Regions from separate parts of the Homo sapiens genome. Here region 2 is linked to region 1. The links come from fine-mapping of genetic effects on gene expression. A gene starts in region 1. The other region holds a variant in brackets. All regions are shown on one strand. Distances are between the middles of the regions. Region 1 holds the start of MAN2C1 (mannosidase alpha class 2C member 1). Region 2 holds the start of SIN3A (SIN3 transcription regulator family member A).

Region 1 (9,757 bases):
AAGGTCTCGGGCTGGGCAGGGTCACACACGTTCACCATCTGATTGGCTGTGTACAGGGCCTGGAAGCTGCGCTGGTTGTCCTTCCCGAGGCCCTGCAGCAGGGTTCTGCCCCTTAATCCCTTTTTCAAGCACAGCTTCCAGACCTAGGCTCCACTGATCTCAGGGCTCTCAGCAGAGCTCCCCTGACCCCCAACCCTTTTTCCCTGCTGGTCCCCCTGCTCAGCACCGTCTCCCTCCTCCCCTTCACATAGGAAAATTCTCTCAACCCTCAAGCAGGTGGAAACCCTCGTCCTACTCTGGATTCCCAGAGTCCCATTTATCTGACCCAAAGAACAACCTTCTTGGAGCAGGGCTCTAGAGGGTAGCAGGGGGTACAGGGGGTGTCAAGTACCTTGGCTATGCCCAGCAGCAGCTCCAGATCCACCAGGAGCATGTGGACATCCCGGTGGAACACAGCTAGCTCAGCCCGGCTCAGCTGGAACATCTTCTCAGGGTCAGGGGCTGCAATCATGCTTCCCTTCCCGGCCCCCAGGAGCCCATTGCAGGCTACTTCCACATAGAGAGTGAGGCTACAAAGATGGGGAGACAGCCTCAGGCTAAGGGACTGGCACAGTACTCCGGGGACTTGGGGAAGGGGCACCCAGGAGGCATCCAGCTGAGCCCAACCTGTCTGCTTCCAGGATCCACTACCCAGAGGATCCCACAGTGTGACAAGAGTGCATGTGGGAGGGTTGTGGTACAAACACCAGATGGATCCCATGTCTTGCTGTCAGAGAGAATAAGTAGCAAAGTTTGGAACCATGTAAAGTACGCTGCTGTTTAGTCTTATATTTCCAAAGTTGTCTTTGCAAAGCACTGCCTTGGTCTTGGAACCCTCTTTGCATATTAAAATCATGTTCGGATCTCCCAGGCTCAAACTTTTAGACCCAAGATCTAAAACCAACACGGCCAACATGGGCGGGCCATTCATTGGAGAACAGGCTGGGCTGTGGTGATGCCATACTTAGGCTTCAGAGAGCAAACACGACTTCCTTAGGGAGGCCTTCCTGACTCCACTTCGCTGCTAAGTCTAGAGCAAATTCCTCAGTGGAGTACCCAGGATTTCCTTCCAGAGCCCTCAGTTTTGTAATTATATGAGTGAATCTGTCTCCCTTTGTTGGCAAGGGCTATTTTATTCACCACCATACTCCCAGTGTCTGAAAGCATCTGAAACAGTGTCAATCTATATAAAATACATTCATAATGTCTAAGAAGTGTTTTTAATGGTGTCATAAAATGTCCATGTTATAACATGGAATGTAAGAAGTCAGGATACAATCTTAACTAGTAAAAACTATACCGGGATGAGCCGGGCACGGTGGCTCATTCCTGTAATCCCAGCACTTTGGGAGACTCAGGCAAGTGGATAGCCTGAGGTCAGCAGTTTGAGACCAGCCTGGCCAACAGAGTCAAACCCCGTCTCTACTAAAAATACAAAAAATTAGCTGGGCATGGTGGTGGGCACCTGTAATCTCAGCTAGTAGGGAGGCTGAGGCAGGAGAATTGCTTGAACCTGGGAGGCGGCGGTCGCAGTGAGCCGAGATCGTGCCATTGCACTCCAGCCTGGGTAACAAAAGCGAAACTCCGTCTCAAAAAAATCCAAAAAAACCCCCCCGAAAAAACAAAAAAAACTATGCCGGAAAGATACACCAAGAACATGAATACTGGGCCAGGTGCGGTGGCTCACGCCTGTAATTCCAGCATTTTGGGAAGCTGAGAGGGGCGGATAACCTGAGGTCAAGAATTTGAGAGTAGCCTGGCCAACACGGTGAAACCCTTTCTCTACCAAAAATAAAAAAAAAATAGCTGGACGTGGTGGCACACACCTGTAATCCCTGCTACTCGGGAAGCTGAGGCATGAGAATCGCTTGAACCTGGGAGGCAGAAGGTACAGTGAGCTGCGATCGTGCTACTGTACTCCAGCATCGGCGACAGAGGGAGACTTCGTCTCAAAAAAAAGAACATGAATGCTGAGATGTTAATAATGTTCATCTCTATTCTAGGGAGTGGAATAACGGTAGTTATTTACTTCTTTGTGCTTTCCTGTATTTACCACAGGCAAACATTGCTATTATTTTTGAGACAAGGTCTCACTCTGTTGCCCAGGCTGCAGTGCAGCGGTGTGATCATGGCTCACTGCAGCCTCATCCTCCTGGGCTCAGGTGATCCTCCCACTCAGCCTCCCAGGGTAGTGTGGGTCACTGCACCCAGCCCATTATTTTTATGGTTAGGAAAAAATCATGCTTTTAAAAGCAAACAATGAGATGTGAGGATGATTGTGCTAGAGCAGAGGCGGGCTTATGAGATCACTCTGGGCCTCAGCTCCTCCTTGCTCACTGGTACTCCCTCCCTGACAGCACTGGTCAACCAGGGCACAGGGACTCACCTTCGGGGGTCTCTTTCCCCCAGCCTGTCAGTCAGGACATAGCTGGTCTTCTCACCCTCTTTGGTTAAACCCTAGTAGGGAGGGGAGTGAGAGAGACAAGGCTTGAGGCTTTTGGACAGTTCAGGTAAAGTGTAAGCCATGGGGAGTCAGGCCCCTCCATCTGGTTCCCAGCTCTGGGTCCTCTCTCCCAAGCAGGGCCAAGATTGGCAAATCAGGGACCCTTGGCAGTAGATGCCCCAACTCCCATGGCAGCCAGCACCATGACCGTCAAATAGCCCCTGTTTACCAGTGGCAAACCCATGGTCTTATGGGAAGGGCCCTGGGAAGGGGTTAGGCAGCCTGAGTGTGGATTCTGGTGGCCTCTGCACCCCTAAATAAATACCGGGAAAGAAACTCCGTGAAGTCAGGGGCAGGTTTGCCTCATTCCCTGCTACACCCTAGTGCTTAAGGGTATGGCCCAGAATGGACACCAGGAGATATTTGCTGAGCCAGTGAAGGGAGGAAGGGATGGTCTCTGCCTTCTTGTAGCCAGGAAGAACAGTCTTAACCCCAGATTGAGAGTCAGTCCAATTTGAAATAGAAGCTGTGTGAACCTGAGTGAGTCAACTACACATCTGTTTCTTAATTTGTAAATGGGTATAAAGACCTACTAGATAGGAGTATAAGGACTAAACCTGATAAGGGTGGAGCATGAATAAGACACTTAACAGTGGTTATAGCTGGGGAATGGGATGGGTGATAAGGAGAGATCCATTACTTTATCTAGAACTGTTTGAAATGTTTTCCTATAAGTTTGTATTATACACAATAAAAACTAAGGACCAATTGCACAGATGCCCAAGTGGCAACTTCCCTAGTCCTGAAATCCTGATACCACCCTGTGGGCAGAGCAACTCAGCTGTGGCTTCTCCAGAGTCCACAGAAGAAGGGCTGTAGTCATTTCAGGGCTGAAATGTGGCCATACCTGGCCCTAGGACAGGGTTCCTCACCTGGACAGGTTCTCCATCACGCCACACCAGACCTTCTCCATCACTTTCCCAGCAAAGGTGAACTTCCTGGCCCACCCATGCCTCTGGGATGGTCAGCTCCACCCGGAACCAGCAGGTCCACCATCTGCAAGAGAGCTGTTGTGATAGGCCTAGAGGTAGAAGTCCTATCCTGATATCCTTCCTTGGATAAAGTGTCGGCAGGGGCTTGAAACTCTCCAAGCATCTGCAGTGTCACAAGGTACTCAGCTTTGAGTCACAAGAAAGGAGCAACAAGGTGAGAAGCAAGATGAGGGAAACAGGCAGAGGCGTCAAAGGTTCGTGATCCCTAGGGTGCCCTTCCTAAGGGATGTCCAGAGGCGGCCACGTGGGAATGAAAACCATCCCCTGAAGACCCAGGGACCAGAGAGCTGTTCCCAGCAGAGGGTGCTGCTCCCAGCAGAGGGTGCTGCTCGATCCCACGTAGTTGTCTACGGCAGAGGGCAGACAACGAAGGTGTGGCTGGGAGCTGGGTTGGGACTTCCCCTAGGCCTGTGGCCCCGCCCACCCGCTGGGCGTTACCTACGTGGGTCCGAAGCTGTCGCCGACCTGCGCGGGGCGGAAGTCCCGCTGGACTGCCTCCTGGTAGGGAAGTCTCTCCGGCGTCAGGAAGCTGGAGAGCACAGCCACAGGGCAGCTGGCCCCAAAAAGCCTGCGTGGGACGGGCCGGTGGGCACATGCTGGAGGCCGCCCCGTTTCCGCCTGGGGGCCAGCTGGCCGGTGGGGCCGCACTTTCCCTGGATCCTCCGCCAAGAGGGCTGCCTGGCCGCTCCGCGGCACAGTCCATTCCCTACCCCCTCCTCCCCGGCCCCTGCCCTGCCCGCGGCGGGCACTTTGTCCCGCGGCCCGGGTGGCTGCAGCTTAGGTTTCTCCCCGGAAGGAAAGCTTGAGGCGCACGGTTGCGGTCGGCCGGCTGCGGGGGACCAGGGGCCACACCTGCCGCGGAGGTTACAGTCGGTAAAGTAGAGCGGCGACACGAACTTCTCCACCCGCTCCAGCGTGGTGCGCCAGTGCTTCAAGGCCGGCGCAGCCGCCATCGCCGGGCTCTCGCTCCTCTTTCCGGAAGGCCCCTGGCGCTACCGTTCCGCTCCACGGCAGGAAACCAAAGGTTCCGGCGTCCAGAGGGCGCCTCCCAGTCCCGGGCAGCTTTTCTTGGAACACCGGCGGCTCTCGGAAGCCCAGCTGCTGTCTGAACTTTGAGCCGAGTTGGAAGCTAGAAACTGTTTTTGAGGCTCTCCTATGTTGTCCGAAATAGTGGGCCGCAGGGAAAATCTCAAAATAAAATGGGAAATTTGACGATTAGAACTCTCGAAAGTCTCAAGACAGAGACTTAGGCCATTCGGCAAGACAGGCGGGAGCCTCAGCTGCTGCAGACCCAGCCTCAGAAGCAGCAACCGGGAGACCTCTGGCTCTAGCTGTCGGTGAACACGGAAAGTGGTGTTTGCTTAACGTGGAGCCAGACTACCCGGAATAGGTGTTTTCATACCGGACGGAGATCAGGGTGTTAGTGAGCAGGGTGGTAGAGCTTTACGCCCAAGTTACTACGACTTACTCGATTACACGCTTTACTGAATGTATATTGCTAACTCTTGCACATCACCAGAAACTCTGGAGTTTGAGGTGGCAGAACAGTCATGGCATTGACGATCCCAATGGAAAAATGTATTTCACCATACAGGACTGTAGAGTCCCGGGAAGCCATAATACCAGAAACAGACCTCCAGTTTCATTCTCATCCCTAGTACTCCACTGACAGCTTTATTTTTTTTCTCCTGGGGTTGCCAAGAGTCTTTGTCTATAAAATCATTAGGAACAAAAAAAAATACACAAGATTAGCCCTGATATTTTAATGGAAATACTGACCAAGTTTACAACATTTCAAATGCAGATCACACGGAAAGGTGACTAAGTACAGAATAACAAATGTGATTTAAAACAAAGATAACCTGCTGCTGCATATAATACAGGTTGGGTTTAGAGCTTGGAGCTCAGATGTCAGACAGCAGGAGGAATAAAAATGCTACTTGTGAAAACCCAGGCTGTAGGTAAAACTTACTCTTTTGTTGGTTGCACTGGTGGGTTGGGACTTTCTCCTGAACTGGCCTTGAAATCCTATCCTGACCTGCAGGCAAGTGCTCTGGACAAAACACTGCAGGGGCAGCAACAGCTGGGGCTGACCCTGATCACACCCCACCAATTTCCCCTATGGTTCCAGGTCAACATGACCTTTCTTGAGGGAACACGGGGATAGGTGAATTATTTGAGAAAACCTCAAGATCTTTCCCCTAAATCAGTACACATGACCACCGCCAAGTCAGACACTGCCCCAGCTTTGCCCTAAAATCTCATCCCACAAAGCTCTTTTTGGCACCCTACACTTTGGCTCACAGTCTCTTCTCCCCAGTACAAAAAAAGCCTAAAATCAGGCCAGGGTGGCTCACACCTGTAATCTCAGCACTTTGCGAGGCCGAGGTGGGAGGACAGCTTGAGGCCAGGAGTTTGAGACCAACCTGGGCAGCATAGCAAGACCCTGTCTCTACAAAAAGTTAAAAAATTAGCTGGGCGTGGTGGCATGCAGCTACTCAGGAGGCCGAGGTGGGAGGACTGCTTGAGCCTGGGAGGTCAAGCCTGCAGTGAGCTATGATCGTGGCACTGCACTCCAGTGTGGGTCATAAAGCGAGACACTGTCTTTAAACAATAAAAGCCTAAAATCAGAGAGGTCTACCATGTGTTTTGAAAATCCAGGAGCCAAAAAATTTTGTTTTTCTTTTTGGTGGTGGTGGTGATTTTTAACTAAAAAGCAAACATAAAACACACAGAACATTGCTGGTTACAACTAAGACTTGCGTAATGGTTGCTGAAGAAAAATCCACCAGAGTACTGGGAGGGGCTCAGTTGGTCTTTGTTCAGAAAGTCCAGGTTAACCACATAGAAAAATCCTAATCATTCATGTTTAAATGTCTGCTAGTTTAAATTTATGTAATTAAAAAAATAGGTATCCCATTTCAAATTCTCTCCCTCCCAACTCCATTTATAAGGTATACCACATGCCTTATGCACACTTTTTTTTCAAACACTGGTTTGGTATTTAAGTTGCTCACCCCCATCCATCACCAATGTGAATAAGAAAAAATATATAGAAATACAAACTACATAGCTTGACAACTTACCCAAATATAAAATATTTTCAGATTATTTGAACAAGGGAAAAAAACACGTACTAAAAGACTTAAGTATTCTAAGATTTTGGAATATTTTGATTTGGGACAAGTAACAAGTATTTTAAGCAAAATCCTGTTTCTACCCTGGATAAGGAACTGAAGTCAAAATCCCTGCTTCACAGTATTTTCTGGTGAGGACAAGGGACGTGGGTTGAGAGTTTATTCCTTAAGTAAGAACCAAGCTTTATTTATTTACAAAAAAAAAAAAAAAAAAGTTGGGGGCAAAGGGGAAGACAAGTTTTACACAAAAGTACTACAATGGTAACTCCCTTTGGTAAAAAGTGTAATAAATGTCTTGTACATCTGTTCATAGGTACTAAATCTGAAGCCACAGTACTATGGTACACAAGAAGCTAGAGCAGTTATGCTAGCACATCAAAGCATATTTCTTTTAATAAAAAATTGACAGTATGTACATTATGTACAAAAAAACAAGTTAAAATTGTGTGTGTGTGTGCGTGTGTGTGTCAGAGAGTAAAGCTGGTGGATGGCACTAAGGTAGACTAGTAAAGAGGCAGATACAAAACAGTTCCACGGGAGCTAAAAAGGACAACTGATTTGAACTCGTTGAGGTTGAGAACCAGAGGAGAGAAAAGGGTAGGCAGCAAGGGAATCGTCAGGAATAAAATCCACAAGATGATCAATCCCAAAGCCAAACTGCAGGTCCCAGATAAAACCTAATGGGTGATCTTAGATGTGCTCGAGTGACCAGAAAAAAAAAATCAAATCCAGCTTTTTTTTCCTTTTGTGGGGAGGGGAGAGGAGCAGTGACCATGATAGTTCCAATCCATCTGAGTATTAAGTCCTTCTCCAGTCTGTTTTGTAAATGCATCTCCATCCAGTCAAAGTGTGAACAGCATCCGGTTCCCTCATTGAAAGTTAGGCCACAGGAGACTCCAGTCTTAGCTCTGCTGGTGTGTGCAAGCAAACTGCATGTCTTTGCTTGCATGGACTTCCTTCCCCTCCAGGGCAGGCTATACCCAAAACCCTTTGGGAAAAGTTCCAGCTTCAGCTTTGTAAGGTATTCATGTTCCTAACAGGTAGCCCACTTGGTGCCAGGCTGCACCAGCCACACACAGGTCAGGTGGCCATGTCCCAGAGAGGCCCAGTGAGGCTTGAAAGGCATCTTCCTTGTTTCTTCAGTGTGTGAGTGCATAGGCCCACACACACATCCCCACACACACCCCAAGTTATCTGCTCTGGCTTTGCAGTTAAGGGGCTTTGAATACTGTGCCGTATTTGACACGATACTTGTTAATGCTCACAAAATGCAGGGTCTCTGTATCACAGGTGGTGGTACAGGGCACCAGGCCCTCCAGCCCCTCACCCATGAGCCACTTGCTGGTCTCTGCTGCCATTTCACGGGGCACATGCTCCTTGGTCCATTTATCTACCCAGGCCTGGAATCTCTGATGTAGACGCTTGCTTACACGCTCATGGGACTGCAAAACAGAAAAAAAAAATTTTATTAAATGAAGCAGAACCAAAAAAGAGCCCTTCAAATACAAAGCCTAATTTTCTTCTAAAGGAGCAAAGGAAAGATGTGGGCTCAAGTCTTAGATACCACTGTTTTTTTCTTAAAAGAAAAAAAAAAGGATTCTCTGTTTAAAGAGAAGTTAAAGAGGTAAGAACATAGAACATGTGAGGGCATGAAAATCCATAAAGCCTCCAAAGAAATGCGAACACAGGCTCTGGGCTGAAAAAGCTCGCTGTTCTCAATTTTAGCATGCGTTAGTATAACCGAGGGAATGTGTTAAAAAATACACATTTCTGACCAGGTGCAGTGACTCATGCCTGTAATCCTAGTACTCTGGGAGGCTGAGGCAGGCAGTTCGCTTGAGCTCAGGAGTTTGAGACCAGCCTGGGCAACATGGCAAAACCCCATCTCTACAAAAATACAAATAATAACTGGGCGTGGTGGCACACACCTGTAGTCCCAGCTACTTGGTAGGCTGAAGTGGGAGGATCGCTTGAGCCAGGAGGTGGAGGCTGCAGTGAGCCAAGATCGCACCACCGCACCCCAGCCTAGATGACAGAGCCAAACCCTGTCTCCAAAAAAAAAAAAAAAAAAAACCCAAAACCCCCAAAACCCACATTTCCTTGGTTTACCAATGTGCATTTTAAACCAGCAATCCAGCTGATTCTAATGTATCCTGGGTAGGACCCAGTGAGCCATTGATCACTTCTATCAGCATGGAGATCCACCTCTAAGCCAGACAGTGCAAAGCAAAGGGCTTAAAACCACTCTCCCTCCACTGTGTTACCCCACCCTGGGAAGCAGAGTCCAGGCTTGGCAGATGTTCTGCAGGGGGTTCTGTTCCCACCAACACATTCAATAAAAATTTATTGGTGTCCACATGCAAGGATACTAGAAGAGATACAAAGACAAAACTGGTGTTGCCCAGTGTCCCAAATAATGTGAATCAGAGACAGGCAGACACACAACACATAGCAAAAAAAATGAGCCAGGTGTGGTGGTGCACGCCCGTAATCCCAGCTACTCGAGAGGCTGAGACAAGAGAATCTCTTGAACCCGGGAAGTGGAGGATGCAGTGAGCTGAAATCATGCCACTGCGCTTCCCTCAGTGCCATGAGAGAAGTAGAGCAGACTCTTGAACAACACAGCTTTGAACAGCGCAGGGCCACTGATAGGCAAGTTTTCTTCCACCTCTGCCAACCCTGAGACAGCAAAAACAACCCCTCCCTTCCTCCTCCCTCTTCAGCCTACTCAACAAGATGAGAATAAGGACCCTTTATGATGAGCCACAACCACTTAATGAAGAGTAAATGTATCTTCTCTTGCTTATGACTTAACATTTTCTTTTCTCTAACTTACTTTATTGTAAGAATATACAGTATAGGCTGGGCACAGTGGCTCACGCCTGTAATCCCAGCACTTTAGGAGGCTGAAATGGGTGGGTTGTTTGAACCCTTGAGTTTGAGACCAGCCCTGGGCAACGTAAGGAGACCCCGTGTCTATTTTCATTAAAAAAAAAAAAAAGAAAGAAAAAAAGAATGCAGTATATATAATACATACAACATACAAAATATGTTGTTTATCAGTAAGCCTTCCAGTCAGTAGTAGA
Region 2 (9,757 bases), 81 kb after region 1:
GGTAGAAAATGAACAGAAATTTAGTTAAATTCAAAATGTATTAATAATTGTTATCAATGTTGATTTTCTGATTTGATCACTGTATTGTGGTTTTAAAAGATGCACTTGGGGAATCTAGGTGAAGATTATAGGGCTATTATTTGTATTATTTTTGCAACTCTCTTTGAAGTCTAAAATTATTTCCAAAGAAAAAGTTTTTTAAAAATTAAGTATTAGGCCAGGCATGGTGGCTAACACCTGTAATCTCAGCACTTTGGGTGTCTGAGGCAGGTGGATTGCTTGAGTCCAGGAAGACCAGCCTGAGCAACATGGTAAGACCCTATCTCTATTTAATATAAGAAATATAATCTTTCAAAATATCTATAAGGCCAGGTGCAGTGGCTCATGCCTGTAATCCCAGCACTTCGGGAGGCCAAGGCAGGTGGATTGCCTGAGGCCAGGAGTTCAAGACAAGGCTGGTCAACGTGGTAAAACCCTGTCTCTACTAAAAATACAAAAAATTAGCCAGGCATGGTGGTGGCGCCTGTGATCCCAGCTACTCAGGAGGCTGAGACAGGAGAACTGCTTGAACCTGGGAAGGGGAGATTGCAGTGAGCTGAGATCGCGCTACTGTACTCCAGCCTGGGCGACAGAGCGAGACACTGTCTCAAAAAAAAAAAAAAAAAAAAAAAAATTAGCCAGGCATGGTGGTGGGTGCCTGTAATCCCAGCTACTCGGGAGGCTAAGGCAGAAGAATCACTTGAACCCAGGAGGTGGAGGTTGCAGTGAGCTGAGATTGTGCCAAGCCGAGATTGCACCACTGCACTCCAGCCTGGGAGACAGAGCAAAACTCCGTCTCAAAATAAATAAATAAATAAATAAATAGCTGGGTGTAGTGGCGCATGCCTGTAATCCCAGCTGCTCGGGAGGCTGAGGCAGGAGAATCACTTGAAGCTGGGTGTGTGTATGTGTGTGTGTGCAATGAGCCGAGATAGTACCACTGCACTCTAGCCTGGGCAACACAGTGAGACCTTGTCTCAAAAAAAAGAAAAAAAAAAAAAAAAAAGAAAGAAAGAAAAGAAAATAGAGCATTACAAAGAATAGAACTTGAGATAGTTCTTGAAAGGACAGGTGGAAGTGTCACTCACATCTCACACTGCTTTTATCACATTAGCTCTTCTGCTCCCACACAAACATGGGCACATAACATCTTTAACCATCTATGTATCCTCTACCATGCTCAGCATACTGCTTTGTCTTGTCTGTGGTGGAAACCAAATCATTCATTCATGTATACATTCTCTAATATCTACTGAGCACATACTATGCACCAGGTGTTTTAGGAGCTGGAGATACAACGGTAAACAAAAATCTCTTCCCTCAAGAAGCTTATATTTTAGTGAAAGATGACACAATAGACAAAGTATAATATTTAGAATAGTAGGCAGTGACAGGTATCAAGAACAAAAGGCAAGGAAGAGTTTTTGAAATTGTAGATAAGAATGGTCAGATAATACCTACTGATAAGGTAACTTCTGAGTAAAGGAAGTGAGGGAGCTAGTCATGCAGAAATTAGTGGAGGAAGCCTTCTAGGCAGAGGGGACAGCAACCGCAAAGACCCTCATGTCTTTGTGAGGGCTCACATGTGCTTGACATGTTCCAAAACAGCATGAAGGCTGGGTAGCTGAAGAAAAACGAAAGAAGGACTAGTCAGAAATGTAGTCAGAGAGGTACTAGGATAAGGGTGGCAGGCAGAGGGTACATCAGATTTGTTCTTACAGGTGTTTTTTTATTTTTTGACACAGGGTCTCATTTTGTCGTCAAGGCTGGGGTGCAGTGGCACAGTCATGGCTCACTGCAGCCTCAAGCTCCTGAGCTCAAGCAATCCTCCTGCCTCAGCCTCTCAAGTAACTGGGACTACAGGCACGCGCCAGCATGCTTGGCTAATTTTTAATTTTTTTATAGAGACAGGGTCTTGTTATGATGCCCAAGCTGGTCTCAAACTCCTGGACTCAAACGATCCTCCCACTTGAGCTCCCAAAATGGTGAAATTACAGACATATCCTTTTTTTTTTCTTTTGAGACAGTCTCGCTCTGTCGCCCAGGCTAGAGTGCAGTGGCACGATCTTGGCTCACTGCAAGCTCCACCTCCCGGGTTCACACCATTCTCCTGCCTCAACCTCCCGAGTAGCTGGGACTACAGGTGCGTGTGCCACCATGCCCGGCTAACTCTTTTGTATTTTTTTTAGTGGAGACCATGTTAGCCAGGATGGTCTCAATCTCCTGACCTCGTGATCCGCCTGCCTCAGCCTCCCAAAGTGCTGGTATTACAGGCATGGGCCACCGCGCCCAGCTCATTACAGACATATCTAAATAAGGACTCAGGTTTAATACTCAGACTGAAATGGAAAGCCACTGGATGGTTTTAAGCAGAGAAGTGACACGGTATGACTTAGGTTTCAAAAGAATCACTTGGGTTGCTATGTTGAGAACACATTTAAGAGCCGCAGTAACAAAACAAGGAGAATAGAATCCAAGCTAGAGATGCACAGGCACTGACTAGGGCAGTGGAGATGCAGATCCTAAGTGGTCTAATTCTGGATAGTATTTTGAATATAAAGCAGTAAAATTTACTGATGGACCACATATGAAAAAGACACAGAAGAGTCAACAATGTCTCTTAGTTATCCAAGAGGAGACATCGAGTGGAGACCTTGAGTGGGCCACTAAACATATTAGTCTATGGTAGAGGGAGAGATCCCCGTTAGAGTCATCAGCATTGTTTGGATTTTAGAAAGGTAATATGGTACATATACTGTATCATCTCTCTCTCCCAGCTAGGGCTGAGTAGCTCCCCATAATCAAGCAGTCACATTTCTGCATCATGCAGGATAGCCCAGGTCAGGCTGTACCCCAAAACTAGTTGTGGAACTAGACTTACCAAAAAACAAAAACTCTTGCATTTCAGAACTGCAAATAAAGGATGTGGACCTGCATATCCTCCAATAGCCCATATGTCAGCAAGCCTAGCCCTGGAGGACACCAAGAAGACTCATGAAGGGTCCACTGTCATGCTGAGAAATATGGGTAACATACAAGCATACAAGACAAAAAGTGGGTAGGGAAAACAAAAGCAAAAGGGGCAAATAAGAAATACATCAGGTAGAAATTGCCACCCATGACCGGGCACGGTGACTCACGTCTTAATCCTAGCACTTTTGAGAGGCTGAGGCAGAAGGACCTCTTGAGCCCAGGAGTTCGAGACCAGCCTGGGCAACACAGCAGGACTTCACCTCTATAAAAATATAAAAAAAATTAGCCAGGTGCGTGGTGGCACACACCTGTAGTCCCAGCTACATGGGAGGCTAAGGTAGGAGGGTCGCTTAAGTCCAGAAGATCAACACTGCAGTGAGCTGTGATCATGCCACTGCACTCCAGCCTGGTGACAGAGCGAGACTTCGTCTAAAAAAAAAAAAAAAAAGACATGAGAAAAAAAGACATTATGCGGCCGGGTGCAGTGGATCATGCCTGTAATCCCAGTACTTTGGGAGGCTGAGGCGGGCGGATCACGAGGTCAGGAGTCTGCGACCAACCTGATCAACATGGTGAAACCCTGCCTCTACCAAAAGTACAAAACTTAGCCAGGCGTGTGGTGGCGCCCCAGCTTCTTCTTCGTGGAGGCTGAGGCAGGACAATCGCTAGAACCCGGGAGGCGGAAGTTGCAGTGAGCTGAGATTGCACCACTGCACTCCAGCCTGGGAGACAGAGCAGGACTCCATCTCAAAAAAAAAAAAAAGTCTAGTGCCTAACACAGTATCTGTGACACAGTAAGTGCTCAATAAATATCAGCTTTTATTTTTCAAGGGGCGAGGAAGGTGTATTTTGAAAAAGCATATACTATTTATTTTTTTAAAGGCCTACAGAAAGTAAAGCTTAACAAACTCTTGGCTGGTGGATTGCCCAGAAAAGAGAGAAAGCCATGAAAAGCACTATGCTAAACTACTGAATGCCAGGGATATAACCTCTTAATTCCAGTTAAAATTCCCAGGTACTAACATCTGCCATGCACAGCTCTCCAGTGTCTTGTCTGCTCCCACTGAAGATGTAAAAAGAATTATACTTCACCAGGAATCTTGTCAAATTACTACACACCTCCTTCCTTAAAAAAGAAAAAAAGTCTTTCTCTGTATGTAAATTATTAAAACCCTCTTAATTACGAAGTGCCAATCTTTCTAAGCTATTTATCTCTGAACAAAATTATAGTATATAAAATAATTATCTGGAGATTATGAAGCATTTATGAAAATGTTCCTAATACAGCAAAACCAGGTTCTTACTTGAATCCTTATAGACTCTTCTGTGTTCCCCAGTATACAGCACTGCAAATCATGGGAACTATATATGTAGCCCAAATTTTCCTCAATGGTCAATCGTTCTCCACTATCTCTCTCAGTTTATGGCATCAGAAAAAACCACCTGGATTTTTTGTCTCCCCACCAATTCTATTACAGCCATCATTTGCTAAACTAAAATGCTATTGCTTTTGCAACTTCCTTAGCAGAGAAGGTAGGACCCACCTACCCTTTTCACATAAATATAGCACAGGGTACCACTCAGGCCCTACTAACCAAAGCACAAATCTAGAATTTCACTTCAGATAATTAACCAGAGGCTCATTTAGACATTACTGCATAAATAAACATTGGTTCCATGTTTATTTTTCTCATGAAAAATGTGAAAAACATTGAAATAATTTCTCTCAATAGGAAAAGATAATGTATCAAGTGAAAGCAAAAACCTCATCTAATGTGGTTCTGCTATCTAAATCTGAAATGCCCTAAGGCAACTCTCCAATACAGGCTGGAGGGCAACGCTACAGAAGTCACATACAGAAGGCTACCCTGATCCACAATTCCACCCTCCTCTGAAATAAAAAGGGCAACAACACTGTACTATGTAGAGTATAAATAGAAAGTGGTCTAGATGGTCTAAC[A/G]TAAGTACATAAAATAAAAAAGAAAAGACTTTTCACCTATAGTTACCTAAATAGCAAATTCTTTAGGAAACCAAGTTTTTTTGGTTGTTTTTTGAGGCGGAGTTTTGCTCCTGTCGCCCAGGCTACAGTGCAATGGCACCATCTCGGCTCACTGCACCCTCGCCTCCCGGGTTCAAGTGATTCTCCTGCCTCAGCCTCCCCAGTAGCTGGGATTACAGGCGCTTGCCACCACGCCCAGCTTTTTTTTGTATTTTTAGTAGAAACAGGGTTTCGCCATGTAAGCCTGGCTGGTCTCGAACTCCTGACCTCAAGTGATCCACCTGCCTCGGCCTCCCAAAGTGCTAGGATTACAGGCATGAGCCACCGCGCCCGTCCAGGAAACTAAGTTTATATAGCAGAACCATGTGCACAATGAAAGCATTCAAAAATACAACTGTCAGAGATATCGGAGTATTTTATTCAAAGTCTGAGTTCTTAAAAAAAAAAAACAAACCCTACTTTATAAACAGACCAGTTTTGAGATTAAAATGTAAATCCAAACTTTCCTGTTATAAATCTCAGCCTTGTAAAGAGGAGGAGCTTCCACTGCCTTTTCAAGGCTAACTTCGTTTAAAGTCCTAACGCACCGAAACAGACGCCAAGTCTACTACCCACCACCCATTGGCTCAAAGGAAGCCCCGCCCCGTACAGCCACGGTAACTGAACATCAAGGGAACCCCAGGGAAGGTTTTCCCTCCGCCACATTTCTAGTCTCTGATGACTCCCTGCCCCTCCCCTACCATCACCACCGCGGATCTAGGGTTCCAGCACCAGCCACGCACGCTCCTACAAGAGGACCTTGGGCACTTCGCCCCAATAGTTACAACCAAGAGGGGAGTGGGGGTGACCATGCTCCCACTCTCCTGGCTGCACGGTGCCAGACACGCTGCATGGAGCAAAGCGGAGAAAGCAGCTCCGGCACAGGGCCCTTGTGCCCCCAGGCAGAAGGCATGACCCAGCCACAAGAGTAAGTCCTGACACCTCCACAGCTCCCAGTCGGCGGGTGCCCCTCCCTCCCCACGGAGACATAGGGCGGGGCAGATCTAGGCGCCGAGACTCCCAGCCAGACCCGACAGCGGGCTTTCCCTAGCACCTCCTCATTGCCAAGGAGGCGGAAACCCGGGGCCTGGGCGGGGTGCAGGGGGGGACGGCCAAGGGGAGTGGCATCACGGATCAGTACGGCCCCTCCGGCCAACCGGATCCCAAGAAGGCGGAGGAACTCAGACTTCACGCCCCCTCCCTGCCGCGCCCTGAATCTACACGCGGGAGACCCCCCCCTACCCCTCCCCGACCCCAGCAGGCCAGAGCGCGGCCGCCAGCCCGAGGCCCCGCCCACCCCAGGAGGAGGGGAGGGGGTGGTCGGCCGCAAACTGCACTCAGCGCGAAGCCGGCCCCGCCCCTTTCTCCACAATCGCACGCGCGCGCCGGCCCCGCCTCTGAGCGGCGGCGCGAGAGCCCGCCCCCCTCCGCGCGCACCGGGACTACGCTCTCCTCCCCCTCCCGCGCGGAGAGCTACCCCGCTCCGCCCCCCACCCCCCTCACACAACCACACACCTCCCGCCCGTCTGCTCTACGGGAAGCCGAGGAGGTCAGCCCCCCCCCCCCAAAATACACACCCTCGAGTCCGGCGTTACCCGCCACCAGGCTCCCGCCCGGCCCCCGGCCCAGCGTGCTCTCACCGCAAAGCTGCTTCGGCCGCTCGTCACTGCGTGTCCCTCTCAGCGTGAGCCGCGAGCTCAGCAGGGAGGCCCCGAGAACGGCGCGGGGCACAGGCCCGCCGAAGCGGACTGCCAGCTACCTCTCCACTAACGAAGCGGTCACAGGCTCCGGTGCCCAGACTGGGAAGGAGGGAGGGAGGGAGGGAGGGAAACTCCGAGGGGGGAAGGGGAGGGGGGAAGATGGAGAAACCGTCTCCGCCGCCTCTACCGCCGCGGCCGCTTCTCTGTTACCCGGGAAATCCCGCCCACTCCCCCGACCCCGCCCCGCAGAGGGAAGACTCAGCTTCGTTCCAATACAGGACGCAATACCCGCCCGTCAAAGACTCAGCCAACCACCGAGGCCTGTCTTATGATTTTCCCGCCCCTTCCCCCTCGACTGGTAGGGGAGGGGGAGCCGCTCTCCTTCTCCACGCCCCTATTGGCGGGGAGCTTCCCTAACTCAACCCCGCCTATTGGAGACGGACTGCTGAAGCCCACCCCCGAGCCCCAACACTATTGGAGGAAGCAGGGAAGCTCTTCCTGTCTCATTGGAGGACACCACATAACCCGCCCTGCAGCGTCTCAGCCACAGGCCTAACAAGTTGGCTCCCGCCTCCGCTGGTCATCGCATTGGAAGGCTACCCCTGGCTCTCCCACCGCCCCAGTAAGGTAAGTAACCGATGTGGGGTAAAATGTCTGTAAGTGAAACAGGCTCCGCCTACCGCACTGCCGGGCCAGGCCCCGCCCCAAGAGTCGGATTGGATATCTTGGCGCTGGTAGGACCCTCCATTGGCCAGGGCGCCCGTCTAGGAAGGAGCTAATTCCACCCTGCGCGAGGAGGCTGAACCTTAGCAGTCCTTTTGTGGAATGTTTACACTAGAGACTGAAGCTCGGAGTTCCAGGGCCCGAGATAGGAGGGGGAGCGGAGCTCATCAGCGGAGACTCCACATCCTAGGATTTGAAGGAAAGGCAGCCCACCATGGAGGACTCCCTCACAAAAAAAATGAGAGAATGAGAACTCATCCTTCCGTCCAGTTATCTTTACAGTTTACATTCTACACACTGCGTCCTTGTAAACACAAATATCCGGAGCAGCTGGCAACTCCTTTCAGCCAAGTAGAGTACAGAACTAAGGTCTGGAGACCTAGGCGGAGAAGTAAACTCCCTAGAGCTGAATATGCAGTCCTAAGAGGGCGGAGATAACCAAAAGAGAGGCGGGCTCTAACAGCCACCGCCCTGGCAAGCCTCCGGAAGGCGGAGCGTGAGGCACAAGGTACTCACGATCTCCCGGGTGGATCTGGAGGCATCCTCAGAACTGAGAAAGGAGAGGAAAACACCAAAACAGGCCACGGCATAAATTAACATTGGGGACATGCCACACTCAGAGAATGGATAAAATTTCCGTAGTTGGGGACATAAGATAACGGCTGTTCACCTTCTCCTTGGCCGGGAGTGTTAATAGCAGTTCCTGTGCCCTCTCTGTGTAGGTAACAGTGCCTCGAACACACAGTGAGACAAAGTGCTTTCAATTCCTAGTTTGCTTTTATTTATTCACCAAATAGGGCGTGGGCCTGACGCTGATCTTACTTTGGGGGGCGCTCTCTCAGCGCCAGGAGAGGTGACGGGATTACGTTGTTACCGCTCTCCCGAATAAGTAGAACCCTCCTCCCAGAGAGCTAAGACCCCAAGGGACACGCCCAGGGAACCCACGCCTAGGTCCAACACTGTCCTCCCTCTGCAATCCAGCGGAAACGGCCAGGAACGAGCTCTGGCAGCAGGTGGGCCTGACTCCAGCGATGGCTTCGAGCCGCGAAACCACAGCAGCGAATTGTGAACTCCAAGGGTAGCCGACAGGTGGGAGCAGCCTCGCCAGTAGCCAAGCCCTGCCCCAGGACAGAGCTCTAAAAATAAGTCAGACCAACGAAGCGACCCCAGGGCCAAACTGCTCGGAGGTTAGGAGGAAGCGGCACTCCAGCAGAACTGACCCACGGCTACTTTTAACTTTGCGCCGCCTTCCACCACTAGACTGAGTACCACAGGGCATTCCCACCATGGTATCAAGAACTACTCAGAACCCAAGCCAGCATTAGGCCGCCCACGACTTCCCGTGAACACAGGGTACCACCTGCGCTAAGATCTCGCCTAAGGGCCCCAGGCCAGGGCACTAGGTTGTCAGAGTCTCAGATACAGCCAACTAAGGACAGCCGCTGCCATGCCTAGGAAAGAACAGACACTTGCAGCGTCTGCAGAGTTCTCGAGCTTAAGCTCAGGGAAGTCAAGGGGCACGGAAATAGCCAAGCGACAGGGTTAGAACTTTAGTACTTGGCCCCGGCCCCGAAAGGCAGATCTCAAACCCAGCAGAACCTCCGGAGTTTCGCTCCCGAAATCCACTCCGCACTGTAATCCCCTGGCTTCACCCCGAAGGCTACTAGGTCTCGAGCCTCGGTGGAACCTTTGTGTGGCTTCTCGGCTCTCCCCGCCCCCCTCGCCAAGGGCGCCGAGCCTAGGACTTCCGGGCGGGAGGGCAGTTCGAAGGAGCTAGGCGGGCCTCACACATGTGCGGAGCGCGCTCAAGAGCGGAGGGAGGCGGGGAGCAAGGGTGGACTTCCCCTCCCAGCTCTCTCCGCCGGAGGAGGCCGGGCTACCCGCCCCACCAATCAGAGGCGGGGGCGGGACCTTGCGCCTCACGTCATCCGCAAGAACCGTCCCTCCTCCCTCCGCGAAAAAAAAATCCTAGCAACTTAAACTCCAGCCCGGCCTCCCGATAGGCGGAGCTCGGGAGAATGTCATCCAATCCACATCCAAGAAGGAGAAAAAAAGGGAGTCTCGCCTAGCCAGTGGAAGACAAGAGAAGGCGGGGCCTCCGGGAGAGCCGGAGGTGGGTGGGAGAGAGGAAAGGGGTCCGCCCCTCAGCTCCCCTGCAGGCGGGTTGCACAAGCCGCCGGCGGAGTAGATAGTAAACAGTCTGGGCCGAGGAGTGCAGGCAAGGGCCGCCCGGCGCTCGGTGGACTGGGCCCCTGCGCCGCCTCTCCCGGCGTCGCCCCGCCCG

The links. PIP is the estimated chance that this variant, and not a neighbour inherited with it, causes the effect.
Region 2: its variant is fine-mapped to the expression of MAN2C1 in whole blood (INTERVAL, PIP above 0.99).

What each region holds. Positions count from the first base shown.
Region 1 is chr15:75,364,097-75,373,853 of GRCh38, forward strand. MAN2C1 (mannosidase alpha class 2C member 1) reads right to left here and starts at 4,511. Exons shown (of 26, transcript NM_006715.4): 1 at 4,387-4,511; 2 at 3,977-4,102; 3 at 3,415-3,538; 4 at 2,426-2,496; 5 at 392-569; 6 at 1-92. The coding sequence starts at 4,487. SIN3A (SIN3 transcription regulator family member A) reads right to left here. Exons shown (of 21, transcript NM_001145358.2): 21 at 5,283-8,113. The coding sequence ends at 7,883. RefSeq lists a silencer at 4,178-4,257 and enhancers at 4,284-4,816, 4,388-4,707, 4,392-4,686.
Region 2 is chr15:75,444,733-75,454,489 of GRCh38, forward strand. SIN3A (SIN3 transcription regulator family member A) reads right to left here and starts at 6,958. Exons shown (of 21, transcript NM_001145358.2): 1 at 6,691-6,958. RefSeq lists enhancers at 5,376-6,295, 5,723-5,852, 7,563-7,612, 7,842-8,373, 8,374-8,906 and 3 more and silencers at 6,103-6,602, 6,823-6,922, 9,643-9,757. The variant A/G (reference allele first, on the strand shown) is at 4,973.